Regions from separate parts of the Homo sapiens genome. Here regions 2, 3 and 4 are each linked to region 1. The links come from fine-mapping of genetic effects on gene expression. A gene starts in region 1. Each other region holds a variant in brackets. All regions are shown on one strand. Distances are between the middles of the regions.

Region 1 (4,367 bases):
CAAAGGATACTGCAAGAGGTAAAATGTATTTGGTTACATACCTATGGTTGTAGGGGTCAAAACTAAATCAAGGACAAATCCCTACCCTCAGAAGAAACTCGATCCTGCCTGGATCCTCTAGAGGCTCTGGCATCACCCACCTCCAGAAAAATCATCTCTCACGACCCTAGCTACACCTTCCTAAGAACTGCAGTATTACACCAATGATACACCACCTGCACAGAAATAGCAAATAATTGCAAATGGGAAAGAGAGTGGGAGAGGGCAGAACAAACACTTTAATCAGTACAGCATATTTAGATCTGGCACCTACATCAGAATAACACTGATGCAACAATATTTATACCAATTGAAAATGCTGGGGCAGTGAACACTTCTGTTCCGATTCTTTTTTAACACGGTCCACCTACCTTCAATACAATTTAAAGTAATTACAAACAATTTGAAAAATCAACATGGGCAGGGAACAGTTTTCTCATTGTGTTACTGAGGTGTGGGCAAGTTATCCACAACAGGCAATTAGACCCAGAGATGTTCTGAAATAGAGGCATTCTGAGATTTAGCGGCTGAGAGTTTCAGCAACAGGAAGAAATAACAGAAATCATGCAACTTCTGTATCATTCCACGTACTTTGAAACTTCAGATACAATGGAAAGAAAAGAGGGGGGAGGGCAGAGAAAAAGGACAGTTGTCTCAGCACTCACGAAAAGGATGCTTTCTCAGGAGATGGTTCTGAGACCGGCCTCAATTTTCAGAAGGAACGCGCCTTTACTGGTTATCTTGCACCGTGTATTTAAAAATTGCATGCTCTTCAAAATAAACAAAAGCTCAGCTACTGTAGCTGTGAGATCTGGCAGGCATTTGTTCCTCCTCCCCTCCTAAAGCACATCAAGAAAACGTTCTCCCTTTAAAGCCTTCATACAGTTTCAGCAACTAGAAAAACAAGCCCACATCTGTCTCTCACGCCCACCACCCCCACCTTCCTACAGAAACAACCCCGAGAAACACTAACAAAGACAGGGAGCAGAGTAAAGGAACAGTTGTTCAACCGCGAACTCACGAATACACATGCAGTGAGGCAATCGACTCCGGTAAAGGGAAAGGAACGAGACACCAGGAGACGCAGCGGGTGTAGGCGGAAGAGGGGGAAAAAATTACGCGCCGCCGCCAAACCTTTGAATAAATTAGAGGGGATCTCGGTGCGAACTTTCCTTGACCTCGACCCCAAAGAGGCTTGCTGGGGCCGAGAAGAAAACCCGTGCGGGATGTGGAGGGGCCCGGGGCGCCGGGGTCCCCCGCCCGCGAGACCCGCTCCACCAGGCGCCTTGGAGAGCAGCGCCAGCGGTCGTCCTCCAGCTCCCGCAGGGGTCGCCCCGCCGGCGCGGGGGACACAATGGGTCCGCGGGCCACGCGAACGGGCCTCGGCCCGGCGGCAGCACGGGAGAGATGTGAGGAGCGCGCGGAAGGGGAGCGCGGCCGGGGAGATCCCAGCGCGGTCAGGCCCGGGAGCCGAGGCTCGGGGGCCCGGGAACTGGGCTTCCCACAGCAGAAGACCCAACAAAGACACCAGGGGAGCCCGGCGGGCTGGGCGCGAGAAGACGTGGTAGCAGGTTCGCTCCTCCGAGCAGACGGGAGGCGCCATCATGGGGGGGGGGGGTCGCGGCCCGCCCCGCGCAGAAAGAGCCCCCTTCCCGCCGCTGCCCGCGCCCCCAGCCCAGCACGACCGCGGCGGCCCCACGCGTGCAGAGACGGCGGCGGCGGCGCTGGAAAGCCCGGGGCGCCGAGGGGAGGGCTGGGACGCGGCATGAAGGGAAAGTTCGGTTCGGGTCTGTTTCGTTTTACCGGGTTGGCGGCGCGCCCGTCCGTGTGGGAGCACGAGTGGCCGGGCGAGCGGGGTCTCGCGGCCCGGGTCCGGACGGCCGGGCGCTGCGCCACTCTCCGCTCCCCGAGCCTCGGCCCGGGTTGAGCCGCTCGGCCTCTCCTTTCTCCGCCCGCCCGCCTGCTTTCTCCTGGAGCCTGGATTGATCTGGTCGCGCTGGCGTCAGGGAGTCGGAGCTGCCCAGCCTCCACTCCTCAGCTGCCAATACCCGGCGCACTCGCCTGCCCGCCCGCCCGCTCACACGCTCACCCGCTCACCCGCGCGCCGCCGCCGCTGCCGCGCGACCAGGGATCCTCTCCAAATTCCCGGCCCGGCCGGCGTGAGCGCAGCGCGGCCGGGGCCGGAGGACGGCGCGGGGGAGCGGCCGGAGCCACCCCCTTCTACCGGCAGCCCCACGCCCCGTTTCTTCCTGGAGAAAAAACAGTGTGGCGGCGTTCAGGCTTTCCTAACCCTGCCTTTTTAGTCCCGGTGGAGCGGACTTAGTCCATTATCTGCAAGTGAATTTCGATGTTCCATATGTTTATTTTCTGAAATGTTCATTAACGCTTCCACCGCGCCCACTGAATCGTTCTATAAACGTGGAGTGCATGTTGACAGTTACCTTTCGAGACGCGCCCTTTTATGTCTATCTTTCGTTGCCCCTCACTCACTCTCCAATAATTTGCAGGCCCCAGAAGTTGTACGTACCCAGAATTGGATAGCCTAGTAAATACTGCACGTGGTTATACAAACCCTGAGTCAACAGATGCGTTTTGTGTCAACTCAGGATCCAGTGATTCGAGTAGGTAACCTTGTTGCTCCAAATAATGGCATGCCATAAGGAGATACTGCTTTAGAACTCCACATTTTTGGTCCAATTTCTACAGTCTTTTAGATGATGCCAACTCCCCCGCACTTAACTCTTACCTACCTGATCTGCATAGACATTGAAAATATCTTCTTGCAAGAGTCAACTTTTCTCTTGGCTAACTCTTGAAGCTGCATAAAATCTTGCATAATTACTATAATGTTGAGTTACGTTTAGAAAAAATGATTTTTTTTTGAGGAATAAATTTCACATGAAGCAAAAAAAAAAAAAAAAAAATCACTCCCAGCAATGTATATCAGAATATGTCTTCTAATTAAATTCCTTTTTCCCTTAACCTATTTGAGCACTTACTGGTCAATTCGTGGGCCTCATCTTATTTTCCCTAAAAGCAGCGTTTGACGCAGTTGATCATTCTCTGCTCCTTAGAACAACAGGAAAGTGAACCTTGTTAAATGCCACTCGGATCAGGCCACTCCTCTGTTGAAAACCCTCCCTTGATAAATAGTATAAAGTATCCCATACAAGAGAACATTATTCAGCCATAAAAAGGAATGAAGTACTGATACTGATGCATGCTACATGGATAACCTTTCAAAACGTGAAGGGAAAGAAGACAGACCACACATTGTATTCTTCCACATATGTGAAATGCTCAGAGTAGGCAAGGCTATGGAGACAGAAAGTAGATTGGTGGTTTGCATAGGGTTGGGGAAATGAGGAACCTGGGGAGTGACAGCTAAAGGTTATGGGGTGACAAAATTGTTCTAAAACTAGTTTCTGGTGATGGTTGCACAACTCTGTGCATATACCAAAAGCCATTAAATTGCACACTTTAAATGGGTCAATCATTTGGTATGTGAATTTTACCTCAAGCTATTAAAAAAAAAGCATGACAATGAAATGCAGTATATGACCTTGATTGGATCCTGAATGGGGAGGAGGAGCTATAAACTGTCATTTTAAAGTCGTTAATTTTTAAAAAAATCAAAAATGGCATTTATTTAATTTTGAGACGGAGTCTCGCTCGGTCGCCCAGGCTGGAGTGCAATGGCACGATCTCGGCTTACTGCAACCTCTGCCTCCCGGGTTCAAGCAATTCTCTTGCCTCAACCTCTCGAGTAGCTGGGACTACAGATACACACCACCACGCCCATCTAAGTAGAGACGGGGTTTCACCATTTTGGCCAGGCTGGTCTCAAACTCCTGGCCTCAAGTGATCCACCCGTCTCAGCCTCTCAAAGTTCTGGGATTACAGGCATGACCCACCGCGCCCAGCCTAGATGGCCTTTCTTAGTGCAGTCCTAGTAGTCTTAAATGATAACTATTAATATTATTATGTATGCAATAAAATTTGATTTTGCCCATTGTGCAAATTATTTCCTTAAATGATAATAAAAATTTGGATATTCTTTTTAAAAGGACATTGATGAGACCATTATAAAAACCTAAATATGGACTGTATATTAATATCATTTTATTAAATTTTTAAAAAATCCTCCCTTGGGTCCTCATTTCACTCAGAATAAAAGTTCCCATAATAAGCACAAGACTCTACATAATCTTTCCTTCCCCTCCTTTAGCACTCTGACCTGCACTTCTACTCTTCCTCTTGCTCACTTCCCCAAGTCACACTGGCATCCTCACTCTTCTGGAACAATCTGGGCACATTCTCACCTCAGT
Region 2 (4,367 bases), 55 kb after region 1:
TTAACATGGATATGATTAAGAAAAACCGTCAAAAACATTAAATATGTGTGTGAATGATTAATCTAGATAGTTACATTTGGGGTAAAAGCAAGATGAGAATATTGGTCCTGCTTTTGTTGCAGTTTTGAAAGACAGTTTCAAAGGAGGAGTGCCAAAGTTTTGCCAAGTGATCGCGGTATCCATTGAAATGAATATGTAGTCTGTTGCACTCACTTTAAAGAGACAAACACTAACTGAGTACGATCTGATGCTTACTAGAAAAGACATAAAATTCATTATATTACAGGCATAGCTCATTTAGCCTTGATTCTACCTCTCTTTTAAGTAGTGATTCAAGCGGCAAATCATCGAGGCTTCTTCTCAGATAGTTTTGCCTATATCAATATCATAGCTGAGTGTACTTTTGAGTTGTAATATAGTTAGTTGCTTTGAATACTAATTTGAAAACTAATTTAAAAATCTGTTATGTAGGCACTATTTATGCTTTTTTGGATATTATTACACTAATGCAACTGTCTAACATTGAAAATGAATAAATAAATGTTTAATAGTTACTTCAAGTAATATAACTGTAGAATCTGGGTTTATAAATACAAAGCTATTCATAGATTTATTGCCATGATACAAGAAAGATACTGAATGTCAAGATGTCTGGGTTTAATTCCAATTAGAACTGCTGTGTGACTGTGGAGGAATGGTAATACCCTCTGCTCTATCTTTCTCTCATTAAAAAAAATTACATTATGCATCACATATCTTGATGGCAGAACCTCACTGTTTTCTGATAAAGTACTATCTGAAACTGCTTGTTTAGTTTTTAACTCAGATATTGCTGGAGCTGTGAGAAAATAATACAATGTTTTGATAGCGAAGGCTTTTCCTTTACCCTGTATTTGAAATAAGGAAAAAAATATACAAGTGCTATCTTGGAATTAATCGAGTAAGTGTTGTCAAGAAGAATGTGAAACATTTGCATAGATAGCCTTAGCATTTACAAAGATATTTATCCTGCTAGGAGAAAGAAGCTATTGGGTGTCTAAGGGAGAGAATGCAGTCATGGATTCTTAGTTTCTGCTTCTGGTTGGGCCAGTAAATCCCCTTTCTCATCCCTCTTTTAAGCTTATCACCAGACAGAAACAGAAAACCATGGCTTCAGGCTGTTAAAAGCCTAAAACAAAACAAAACAGAACAAAAACAACAAAATAAGTCGGGTTAAACAAGCTTGTGTGCCTCAAGTAAAACATAAAACGTTATCAAATGTAAAGTTTCCTTTATAAATATATGTTATAGACAACTTATAATAAATTGAACACAGAAATTATTCTATTCATTTATACCTATGACCTAGAGTATATAACAGAGCTAAGCTTTAAAAAGTGAAAAACCATTGAAAACGATAGAGGTGTTAAAGAGAGAGAGAGAGATACAAAAAGTGAAAGACCAATTGTCCAACTTCCCAAGTCATCCAGCATATTAATGTAATCATTTAAGATTCATATAGCTAACAGCTTCATTGTTTATTCCCAAAGTACACAATACATGCTTTGTTCTACATGTATGGTCTAGTTCCTATAAGCATTGCTATTGGCATTCTTTTTTATAAAATATTTTCTAAATCCCTTGTGTAGGATCTATTTTATTTTTGCCAGTCGATTAGTTTGCAACCAAAAAAGATGACTACCAATAAGCAATGCTTATGGTCGATGCCTTTGAAAGACAGCTAAACACACATACACACAGAAAAATAATTAACTGATCATCTGTTATTTTCTTTCCAATTTGGGCTTGGTTAAAAAGACAGACAGTACATAGCAGTGACCAGCTGCTGACAAGCAAAGTTCAGCAAACATTTAAAGGCAGCCAAAATGTTTACAACTTTTCTTTTGTAATATTTAACTATGAAATTGCAAAATGAGTGACAAAATATATAAGAAAAAATATAGCTAATGGAATATAATCTTAATTAAGATAGGTTAAATTATGGTACCATAAAAATACATGCCCCCAGAATCAAGTTTTATCTTTAAGGTTAAAAATTCACTTCTAGGAATTCAGTCTGATGCCAGCAATCCAGTCTTTTTAGATTTTTGTATCCAGACTTTAATAGACCACTGTATAAGGGCTTCTGAACAACAGATATTAATTATAATCCTTAATTATACTCAGGCTGTACTTCATCATTTTTATTCTCTCAACTTTCTGGATGCTCAGCTGAAAATGCAAGAATTAACAGGCTCTGAGACTTATTGGTAAATTATTATCAAAGATCATTGAGTATCTTTTGAGTGTAAACAGCAATCTGTTCACTGATTTCTATAAATGTTTGCAGCACTCACTATATGCTCAGCATAGTCTCTGTGGATATAGCTATATGTACAAGACATGCTGCTTTCCCCAAAGAAGTTGCCATATAACAATACACAAATGCTTTCATCTAAAATAACTAAATAATAGTGCTTTGTGCAAAAGGAGATTTTTACAGCTCTGTTTTCACTTATCAGTTTGAAG[A/G]TATGCTTAGAAGTGTTAAGCATTTACTAGATACTAACTGAAGATAGGAAATTCTTCTTTTTTCTTTTCTTTTTTTTTTAATTGAGACAGAGTCTTGCTCTGTCACCCAGGCTGGAGTGCAATGGCGTGATCTCAGCTCACTGCAACCTCTACCTCCCAGATTCAAATAATTCTCATGCCTCAGCCTCCCAAGTGGCTGGGATTACAGGCATGTGCCACCACATCTGGCTAATTTTTTTTTTTAAGTAGTGATGGGGTTTCACCATGTTGACCAGGCTGGTCTTGGACTCCTGGCCTCAAAAATCTGCCTGCTTCAGCCTCGCAGTGTTGGGATTACAGTCATGAACGACTGCATCCAGCCTAGAGAAAGGAAATTCTATCTGTGGGATTTGAGCAAGGAAACTATGCTAGATATTTGCAAGTGAAGATCTAAACGTCTAGTAGCTAACATCAAAACTTCTTCCAGTAGTGCAGGCATAGCACGCAGGAGTACAGTCGTAGAAACTGCCAAACATTTTATGCAAATTTAGTGACTGTGGTGGTATAGAAACAGGAAAAAAATGGTTGATATAAAAACATCTTATTGTATTTAAGACAAAAATTTGGAACCTTCAAGACACAGTCAATTTTTGTTTTCTAATAATAAAATTATATCTTTTGCCTAATTGTATCAAACAACAGTTTGACCCAGTTGGAATTAACTTAATAATAAGTTCTAATATTTTCCTAGTTGATTAATTATTTCCCATACTTCAGATACATAAAACAACTCTTCAACAGTTGTTCAAACAACATTAAAGTCTCTACCTCCTTAACATGATGGAATAATAAGAATCAGATTTACTTCCCCATCTTTAAACAAATATAAAGCTGGACAAAATATAAGTTTTGCAGTTTTTGTAGAGACAGGGTTTCACCAGATTGCCCAGGCTGGTCTCAAACTCTTGTACACAAGCAATCCACCTGCCTCCGGCTCCCAACGTGCTGGGCTTACAGGCATAAACCACCATGCGCGGCCTAATATATTTATAATTGGAGTACCAGAAAAGGTAGGTTGGGGAGGGAAGAAAAATTACTTGAAAAAATTAATGGTCACAACTTTCTAAATTTGATGAATTTGATAAATTTGATGAAAATGATAAACCCACAGATTCAAGAAGCTCAACAAACCCCAAGCAGAAAACATGAAAGAAACAACACAAAAGCACAGCACGACCAAATGCTGCAACCTAGTAATAAAGAGTAAATCTTAAAAGTGAAACAGAAATATTACATATGGAAAAGTAAAGATGTATTAGTCAGCTCAGGCTGCCTAATAAAATACCACATAATAGGTGGCTTAAACAGCAGAAATTTATTTAAGCAATAATAATAACAAAGGAATTTTGGTCAGGTTCTGATGAAAGCTCTCTATCTGGTTTGTAGATGGTTGCCTTCTTGCTGTGACCTTACATGGCCCTTCCTTAGTGTGTATACATGGAGACACACACACACACACACACACACACACACACAGAGAGAGAGAGAGATAAAGAGAGAGAGAGACATATCTCTCTTTTTCTTTTTACAAGGCCACCAATCCTATAAAATTCAAACTCTGCTCTTATGACCTCATTTAATCTTATTTACTTCCTAAAAGCCCTGTCTCCAAATACAGCCACATTGGGGTTTAGGGCTTCAACATATTAATTTGGGGGTACAGTGTGTGTGTGTGTGTGTGTGTAAAATTTAGCCTATATCAAAAGATAAACATAACAAACAGTAGCCTTCTCGTTAAAAAATGTGAGCCAAAACAGCAGGGTGACACTCTGAAAAAGTCTTTATATGTACATAAAAGCTGAGAAAATTTATTTCCAGTA
Region 3 (4,367 bases), 30 kb after region 1:
AACTCGTGGACAAGATACATCTTACTATCTTCCTTTACCTGGAGATCCACCCATTTCTTCTCACTTAGTCTAGATATCACAGGATTAGTTAGACCTCAAGCTTCCCAGATACTGTAGCTCCTAAAATTATAGAGAGAACAGCAGAAAACTTCTTTCCCCACATTCTCTATTACTTTCTCAACCCACAAAAGGAGAAAAATATACAATCTAACCCACAAATGGAGGAAAATATACAATCTGGAATAAATCTTAAGGTGTCATCTCCTTTGTCTGTCATCTTTAATGTGCTAGAATATCTGGCATTAGGCCCAGAAAATTGAGATTTACTTCCACTTCTCAAAGATCTCTATTTCCTCTACAAAGGAATACTCATCAGTAAGGCAATGCTCTTGGCTCAATTTAGCTTAAAGGGACTTAGACTGGAGCCCTCCATTACAGAAGCTTTCTCCCCTGTGTATTTGTATTAATGTATTCTTTCCTCTTGACAATCTTCTCCCAGAAAATTTCTCCCTCCCTAATAGTGTTTTTGGTGGACAGACATTAACCATCATCAGTCTTCAATCCTACTTTGCAGTATTTAGATATTCTGATGTCCCTTAGTTCACTAGATTCATCGGTTTGTTCAGTAAATATTTACTGAGCATCTACCAGGCCCTGGTATAGGTCAATAAGCAACACAGAACTCTTCCTTTCATGGAACTAACATCCCAGTGGCTCTTGCAAATATCCTGTGAGATGGCTTCAAACAGGCAGCATGGTAGTGTGTCCTAAACAAGCGGAAAAAAGAATCAGACTAGTACATGCAGGTTTCCTCTTCACGAAGCTCTCATTCCTGTCCTCTGGGTCCATTTTTCTCATAGGTAGGTTGTGCACTCTGCTTCTTACATTCTCAAAAACAGTGCACTGAACTGCAGGTGTTGTGGGAATACATTTAAGAAATGTTAAAAAAGACCATAGGGGAAATGACTCACTTTGTAGAAATTCACATCAATAGTGTATCTGGAATGATCCACTTTGCTAGCTTGGAATACAAACACAATTGCCTCATATTTATTTATTCAATTTATTACCTGCCCTTAGTGATAGGAAGTCCACTTATTTCCTAAGGCCTCCCTCAGCCAGCCTGCTTGGGTAAGAACACTAGGAACTTACTCAGTTCAAAGGCGATCAGTCCTGCAAAAAGCCAGGACGAGAGAGAAATCTGGGAAGTATGAACAATCCACTAACACCTTGGCTTGGTCTCTGTCACATGAGGTTAAAGATGGGTCCCGCACATTCTGATATCAGGACATTTGTTTGTGGCTGCTGTGATGCTCCTACTGATTCAGCTCTCTTCTTCCCATCACCCTGCCAGTGTCCCTCTGGAGCTCTGAGACCACATCTATTTTAGGTCACATTCACACACTCATCAATTTTTTCCCTTCAATGCTTAGCACCAAGCCAGGTGGGCCAAAGCTAGAAAAGAACTCAATCCCAGCCTCTTGTCATGCTGGAGCACATAAGTCTTCTCCATAAATCCTTCTTTGGTCTGTCTTAGCATCTCTTCCTGCCACTGGACTACCTCGGCATACCCCAACAATGAATCTCCCTGTTGCATGCAAAGGAGAAAGCCAGATGTTGTTAAGCAACAGACACATGCTCATTTTGGACACCTACACCTACACACAAACTCTCACAGGCAAAGATTGTCTGTTTGCCTTACATTTTCACAACTTGGAGGGTCTTTGAAATGATTTTCCTACAGTGAAGCAATATGCTTCAGGGAACTGTTTTTGGCTGACAGTAAAAGAAATGGAAGCTCATGACAACACTAACTTTTCATAGAGAAAGGTCTGCTTCTAGCACTATGGATGTTGAGTGAGACCAAGTCATCATTACGTAGGGCTTCATTATTCATGAGGGGAGGGCTACATTGTTTGCTTCTCTCCCATCACATGGTATTTTTACTAAACATTAGCATTTTAATAACTGAGGAAAATATGAATGAGAATATGTTAGTGTGCCATTTGTGGTGGCTTTTAGAAAACATGATGTTGGACAAATGAAAGTCAATGATGATGGTGACATAAGATTTCCTGGGCCACCTATTTGAAGGCTCCTTTCTCCTTCAAACACCTCATTGTTCTGCTACTTTCAATAACACTACATGAACTGCAGAATTAAATCAGAAATCTTTAGCCAGGCATTCAAAGTCTTCTGCAATCTAGGACTTACCCACCTGTTCGTCTTAATTTATCATTATCTTTCTAACTAAATTCTGAGCTTTGGCTGTATTTGTTTACTCACTAGTTCATGAACTTACCATGCACAGTTTTAAAGATAAACTTTAATTTGGAATAATTTTTAGATGTACAGAAAAAAATATGAAGTTGGTACAGAGAGTTCCTATATGTCTACTCTTTATCCAGTTTCCCCTAAAGTTAACATCTTACATTATCATGCTACATTTGTGAAAGTTAAGAAAACAATGTCGGTATATTACTTTTGACTAAACATCAGTTTTCATACTACAGTCCTTTCGCTGTTTCAGG[A/G]TCCTATCTAGGATAACAAATTATATTTAGACCACGCATCTTTTTTGTTTCTAGTCTCTGTTCATTGCATTTTCCCCCCAGGATGCCCTTTTCTCTCCTTTCATATTCTCCAAGGTCCATTCATGTCTTATCTCTGCAAGCTTTTCCTAATTGCTCCTGTCCTCTGTGATTTTTCTCGTCTTCAAATTGCAGAACCACTTTTGTCTGGATCACATATTTGGAACACAGCATACACTGACCTGCATTATTATATATCTTTTTATATTTTGTTTGCCAATTAGCTTTTAAGGAAAGGATAATATCTCATTCATTTTCTCATCTCTGGCACATGTGCAGGCATTGTGTTCTGTAAATATTAATGGAATTATTAGAGGCCTAAGGCTACTACATTTATATTTTATAATATACTAAATATGAATATAACTTGACAAATCATAATAACTAATATTTATTGAGTGCCTCCCATATGACAGGCACCTTAAAGGCTTTAGATGTAGTTTTAGAGTTAATTCTTTTAATTTGTCCCTCGATGTTTTTACTCTGTACACTGGGCTGGGATTTAGAAGCTATTTTGCATCATGTCCTGTCTCTTTACTCTCTGAGGGCAGGAACTTTATATCTTCCTGCCCAGAACTAAAAGGTGAATGTTATAGAACACAGTGCCAACTATTTATTTTTCTTCCTTATGACAATATATTCTCTTATAATTTTTTAAATTATAAAAGAAGTTTATGCACATGAAGAAATTCTGAAGTGTACATATATAGTAAGAGATACCTTCTTCAATTTTTCCTTCCAATTCATCAAGATCAAATTGTTTAAAATTTTGAACTTGACACAGGTTGTTAAAAATTTGAATATTTTAAATTATAAATAAACACATATTCATGATCTTAAAAATTTCAAACTCCAATTATACAGAAGAATAAATACAAAAAAGAAATCTCCATGAGTCCTACTTTTCAGAGGAAACCACTTGTGAAAGTTTACTATTATAAAACCTCCAGGAGTTTTCTATGCATATAAGCTTTTCATGTTTTATTTTTGGCAGGAATGGAATCCGGGCATATCTGATCCTGATATTTCCAAGGTGTTCCTAGACACCTTCTGCTGCCTTGGACATCATTACCTGTTATTTCCGCGCCCCCCCCCCCCCCCCCCCAACGCCCATTCTAGCCAATCTAGTTTTCCTGGGCACAAACCAATCCTTCCCCTTTTTCAGGCTTCCTCTTTCTGACTCCAAACAGTAAGTTTTTCTAGGATTTTTTTTTTCTTTCCCTGCATGTTTTCATCCTCAGAGTTTATCCATTCTCTGGGTTGGTTACCATTTTCTCTTGCTCTATTTTCTTATGGTCAAACTTCTTTTTGGAGTTTCCCAATCCACACTCATTCCTTAGCCCTCTGAAATCTGACTCACATACACTACTCCAATAAAATTATATTTGAAGATTCCTGAGACATCACGGAAATTATTTTAGCTCCTACCCCTATGGGCTTCTGGGTACCATTAACTCTTCTTTCTCCTTCTAGAAGCACTCTTCCTGGCTTCAGAGGCATTGCAAAATCGTAGTGCTAATTGTACCTTTAGGATTGGCACCTCCCCTACTGACCTCTATGGGGTCTCTTGTTCCCCTTCTCTTTCTCCAGCCCACACCCCCTCCATCTCTTTGGGGAATTTTTCAGCTCCCCAAACCTCAAACACCATCTAACTCCATCTGTCCAACATAAACTAACCTTTCTTAAATTCTAGTCCCACACTTCCAACTCTCTGCAGGTCATAGTCACAATTTTACTTCAGCATTAACAGCTCAAAACTTAAAACTCATCCGCTTGATT
Region 4 (4,367 bases), 130 kb after region 1:
AATTTTTCCATGAATCAGTGAGGGGCAGGGGATGGTTTCAGGATGATTCGAGTACATTAAGTTTATTGTGCATTTTATTTTAGTTATTATTACATTGTAATATATAATGAAATAATTATATAACTCACCATAATGCAGAATCAGTGGGAGCCCTGGGCTTGTTTTCCTGCAGCAAGACAGTCCCATCTGCGGGTGATGGGAGACAGTGACAGATTATTAGGCAATACAGCCTCATAGGAAGTGTGCAACAGGCCGGGCATGGTGGCTCACGCCTGTAATCCCAGCAATTTGGGAGGCCAAAGCAGGCAGATCATTTGAGGTCAGGAGTTTGACACCAGCCTGGTCAACATGGTGAAACCCCGACTCTACTAAAAATACAAAAAAAAAACAAAAACAAAAACAAAAAATACAAAAAAAATTAGCCGGGCATGGTGGTACATGTCTGTAGTCCCAGCAATCCATTTTGTTGTTGTTTGTTTATTTTTGGTTGGCAGTATCAACTTGTAAATATCTAGTATATTACCTATCCTCATATGTCCAATGACAATTTTGCCACAAGGATGATGAAAATAATGATTAATGCTTAGTGGTGGCATAGGTTACAGGTGACTTTTCTTCACCAGGACTTCTTATTCCTATGACATTCCAGTCCTTCAGAAAAAGAAAATTCTAGCAGGAATAATCCAACCTTTGGCTCCATTTGTGGCAGGGCCAGCTTCCAGCGGGTTTGGCTGGCTGTCCTGGCTGGGCCTTTCATCTCCAAGGTCTCTAAGCAGACTGGCTTGGGTCCTCACCCATGTAGATTCAGTGCTGGGAAAACAGACTTAAATCCTTTGTGTAAGTTCACTCAGAGATTCCACAAAATGGACTCAGGATCTGTAAAGACTCTTTTAAAAAAATGAATCTTGTTCTGTAAGATTTTTAGCAGCTCCTGTTGCCGTTGTTAATGAGTAAAAGAGTATCATACACACACAATTATATCTGTCATTGGTGCCAAATGCCCTACTTTACCCTGACTCCCTAGAAATTGAGAGCTGCTCCTTTGGAACATGAGTTGGAACATGAAACGTGATATGGCTTATACTGCCATGGGGATAAGGACATGAGGAGTGCAGGTGTGGAGCTTTGTGCAGTCTCTTGGCCCTGTGGCTAACTGACAGGGGTCTGTTCTGGCCAAAGCGAGAGGTGATGGGTCACATTTAACCCTGCCCTTCTCCCAGCCTCAGCACTGAGAAGGCTGAACATCTTCCCCTCTCCACTCCCAAAACTTTTTCCTTAGGAACCAAGACATTAAGAACATTTTGCAGGATGAAAAATTAAATGAACTGAGGTAGGTCAACTGGGATGAATGAATGACATGATTTATGAAATAAAAGAGAATCCAGATAAACAAGAGGATAGTTTTTTCCAAGTGTCCCCACAGAAAGAAATGTTTCTTCTCCTCAGTCTATCATTAAATTCCCGGCACTGCCAACCTGAGAAGAATTTGTATGAGGACCAGTAAGTCAGATGGTGGTGGTAGGCTACTTGGGGCTGGCTTCACTTTGTTTTGCTTTCCTAAGAAAACAAAGCAATAAGAAAGGCAGCAGGCTGTGCTGGAGTGGATGCAAGAACCTTCAGTCCCAGACCAGGCTCTGCCACTCACAGCCTTCTTTGAATCTCAGGTTTCTTTGCTTCTAAAATTGTTCACTTCCCAAACTGGTAAGATAGAATACAATATTTTATATTGTATAGAAGTCAGAGTTTATAGAATATTTTATGTGTATTTAATCCTTACAACATGTAAAGAAGGTACTATTGTCTTTATATAATAGAAATGAAAACTGAGGAGAACCTATGTATCTTATCCAAGATATGTAACAGTGAAATTAAGCTGGAAGCCAATTTAGATCTCTAAACTCTGAGTTGAGTGTGGGCTTGTTCTCTTCCTCCTTTTTATGAGCTAGATTTATTATTATTATTATTATTGGGATAAAATACACATAACAGAATATTTAGCATTTTAACCATTTTTAAGTATGCAGTTCAGTGGCATTAGGTACATTCACATTGTTCTGCCACCCTCACCACCATCCATCTACAGAATTTTTTCATCACCCCAAATTAAAACTCCATACCCATTAAACAATAACCCCTCATTCTCCTCTCCCTGACCTCCTGGCAGCCAACATTCTACTTTCTGTCTCTATGGCTACTCTAGGTACCTTATATAAGTGGAATCCTACAGCATCTGCCTTTTTGTGACTGTTTCATTTTCACTTAGTATAATGTCCTCAAGATTCATCCATGTTGTAACATGTATCAGAATCTGCTTTCATTTTAACGGTGAATGATATTGCATCATATATTCCAATGTGGTTTATATTACACTGTATTTATCCATTCATGTGTCAATGGACATTTGAGTTGTTTCCATCGTTTGGCTATTGTAAGTAATGCTGCTAAAATGTGGTCTACAAATAACTGTTCAAGTCCC[T/C]GCTTTCACTTCTTTTGGGTATATACCCAGAAGTGACATTGCTGGATCATATGATAATCCTACATTTAATGTTTTTATTTCTCCTTTTAAAATAGGTAAAGTCAGCTGATAAAAATAATTTCCCGCCTCTTGTTACTTATATCGGAAACTACCTCTTATTCTTTTTAAAAAATGGTTATGGTATCCCTTTGATGCTGTGGCCTAGCTGGGTCATTTAACTGCTAGTGATAAAAGCCATGCCTTGTATTTATTTTGTGCTCTGCTTCTGCATGCAAAGCATCACATCAAAGTTATCTCATTTACCTTTTCAAGGTTTATGAGAAGAGGATCCAAGGCAGGTATTATTAACTCCATTTTACAAATGACAAAAATAGGCTGCAAAAGGTTAATAGATTTTCTTCAGTGAGATTATAGTAGTAATGAAATGAAAATCCAGCTTTCTAACTCTTCATTTAAAGTTTATTCACACAAGTTTTCTGTATACTTAAATGGAACATATTGTCAGATAATTAATTTGATTCTTATTTGATACTTATAAACTTAGAAAAGTCTCCAAATTTCCATGCCTGTTCCCTCATCTATAAAATGACACGGATACTACTAACCTATGGAGCATGTAAGGAATTACCCAACACAAATAGCAGCAAAGCAAGTCACAAAATTGGGGAGTACTAGGAAATCATTAATGACTCAACTATCTATTATTTAGTGAATATTACTAAAGCAGAATCTTAAATGAAAGTACTGAAATTGTTTCCCTGAAATTTCAATGTGATGCTGAAAATTAGTTTGAAAACATGAAAGTTTGAAAAAAAAAAAAAAGTTAGGTAAACCTGAGAATGTTCTCATGGCTGTGTGCTTCTTCCATTCAAGTGGCAGGGCCTTGTCCTGTCTTGGGTGGGCTAATGGTTTAAGACAGATGTTAGGGATCTGGGCATTTTCATGCTTCAGGATCTTTGCTGATAACTTCTCTCTGATTTACATGCCTTTCCACCTCTCATGAATTTAACTTTCATGTCCCTCTCAATGTGACATCTTATCCACTATGACTTCTCTGTTCCCTTATCCTAATTGTTCCTTCCTCTGTGTTCCCAATCCATATGTGCTTTCTTCAGCATATGTACTTTTTTTTTTTGAGATGCGGTCTCACTCTGTCATCCAGGCTGGAGTGCAGTGACTTGATCTTAGCTCATTGAAGCTTCTGTCTCCCAGGTATATGCGATTCACCTGCCTCAGCCTCCTGAGTAGCTGGGATTACGGACATGAGCCACCACACGCAGCTGATTTTTGTATTTTTAGTAGAGATGGGGTTTCACCATGTTGTGCAGGCTGGTCTCAAAACTCCTGCTCTCAAGTGATCCTTCCACCTAGGCATCCCAGAGTGCTGGGATTACAGGTGTGAGCCACCATGCCCGGCCAGCATATGTACTTATAAGATCATGTTTTAGTTTGTGGTTTTTCTCTCTCTTCTCCTTTATGCTGTGAACATCTTGTGGGCAGCCTCCATCTCATTCATTGTTTCCTTGATGCTTGTCATAGTGCTCAGCATATAATGCACACTCAAAAAGTATTTGCTAAATTTTAAAAGGTAAAATCATATGAACAAACAAAGAAGTCAAGATTGATTTTCCAGGACATGCAAGTCCTTGCACTGACACGGGAGTCTCCTTCCCCTTGCAAAAGCAATGCCCTTGTTCTCTCCCCTTTCTTCTTCCTCCTCAAGGTTGTTCTTAACATCACTCTGCTTCCTTTCATTTCAAGTAGAGAACAAGCGTTAGAAATGAGGCGCACTGATTTGGAAAGGCTGACCTCAGGTTTAAAGTCAGGGAGGGTGATAAGACAGAAGGCAGCATTATGCTGGAAACCTCCTAGCAGGTCCTTAATCCTGGAG

Alleles and levels. Positions count from the first base shown, and alleles are read on the strand shown. Sizes are in standard deviations (SD) of each study's normalised expression. Not every link is listed here.
As copies of G replace A in region 2, the expression in fibroblasts of the gene that starts at base 2,028 in region 1 goes down (small effect, 0.24 SD a copy in GTEx).
As copies of T replace C in region 4, the expression in lung of the gene that starts at base 2,028 in region 1 goes up (small effect, 0.23 SD a copy in GTEx).

Evidence for each region. PIP is the estimated chance that this variant, and not a neighbour inherited with it, causes the effect.
Region 2: its variant is the best candidate, but not a certain one, in a credible set for the expression of SMAD1 in fibroblasts (GTEx, PIP 0.54).
Region 3: its variant is the best candidate, but not a certain one, in a credible set for the expression of SMAD1 in whole blood (TOPMed, PIP 0.51).
Region 4: its variant is the best candidate, but not a certain one, in a credible set for the expression of SMAD1 in lung (GTEx, PIP 0.78).

The regions. Positions count from the first base shown.
Region 1 is chr4:145,479,514-145,483,880 of GRCh38, reverse strand. It overlaps SMAD1 (SMAD family member 1), which reads right to left and starts at 2,028. Exons shown (of 7, transcript NM_005900.3): 1 at 1,843-2,028. RefSeq lists silencers at 1,210-1,309, 1,400-1,459, 1,800-1,959, 2,130-2,259.
Region 2 is chr4:145,424,857-145,429,223 of GRCh38, reverse strand. No RefSeq gene overlaps it. Among named protein-coding and RNA genes, the nearest start is that of SMAD1, 55 kb to the left of the region's middle. The variant A/G (reference allele first, on the strand shown) is at 2,509.
Region 3 is chr4:145,449,311-145,453,677 of GRCh38, reverse strand. No RefSeq gene overlaps it. Among named protein-coding and RNA genes, the nearest start is that of SMAD1, 30 kb to the left of the region's middle. The variant A/G (reference allele first, on the strand shown) is at 2,532.
Region 4 is chr4:145,349,327-145,353,693 of GRCh38, reverse strand. No RefSeq gene overlaps it. Among named protein-coding and RNA genes, the nearest start is that of LINC02266, 11 kb to the right of the region's middle. The variant T/C (reference allele first, on the strand shown) is at 2,477.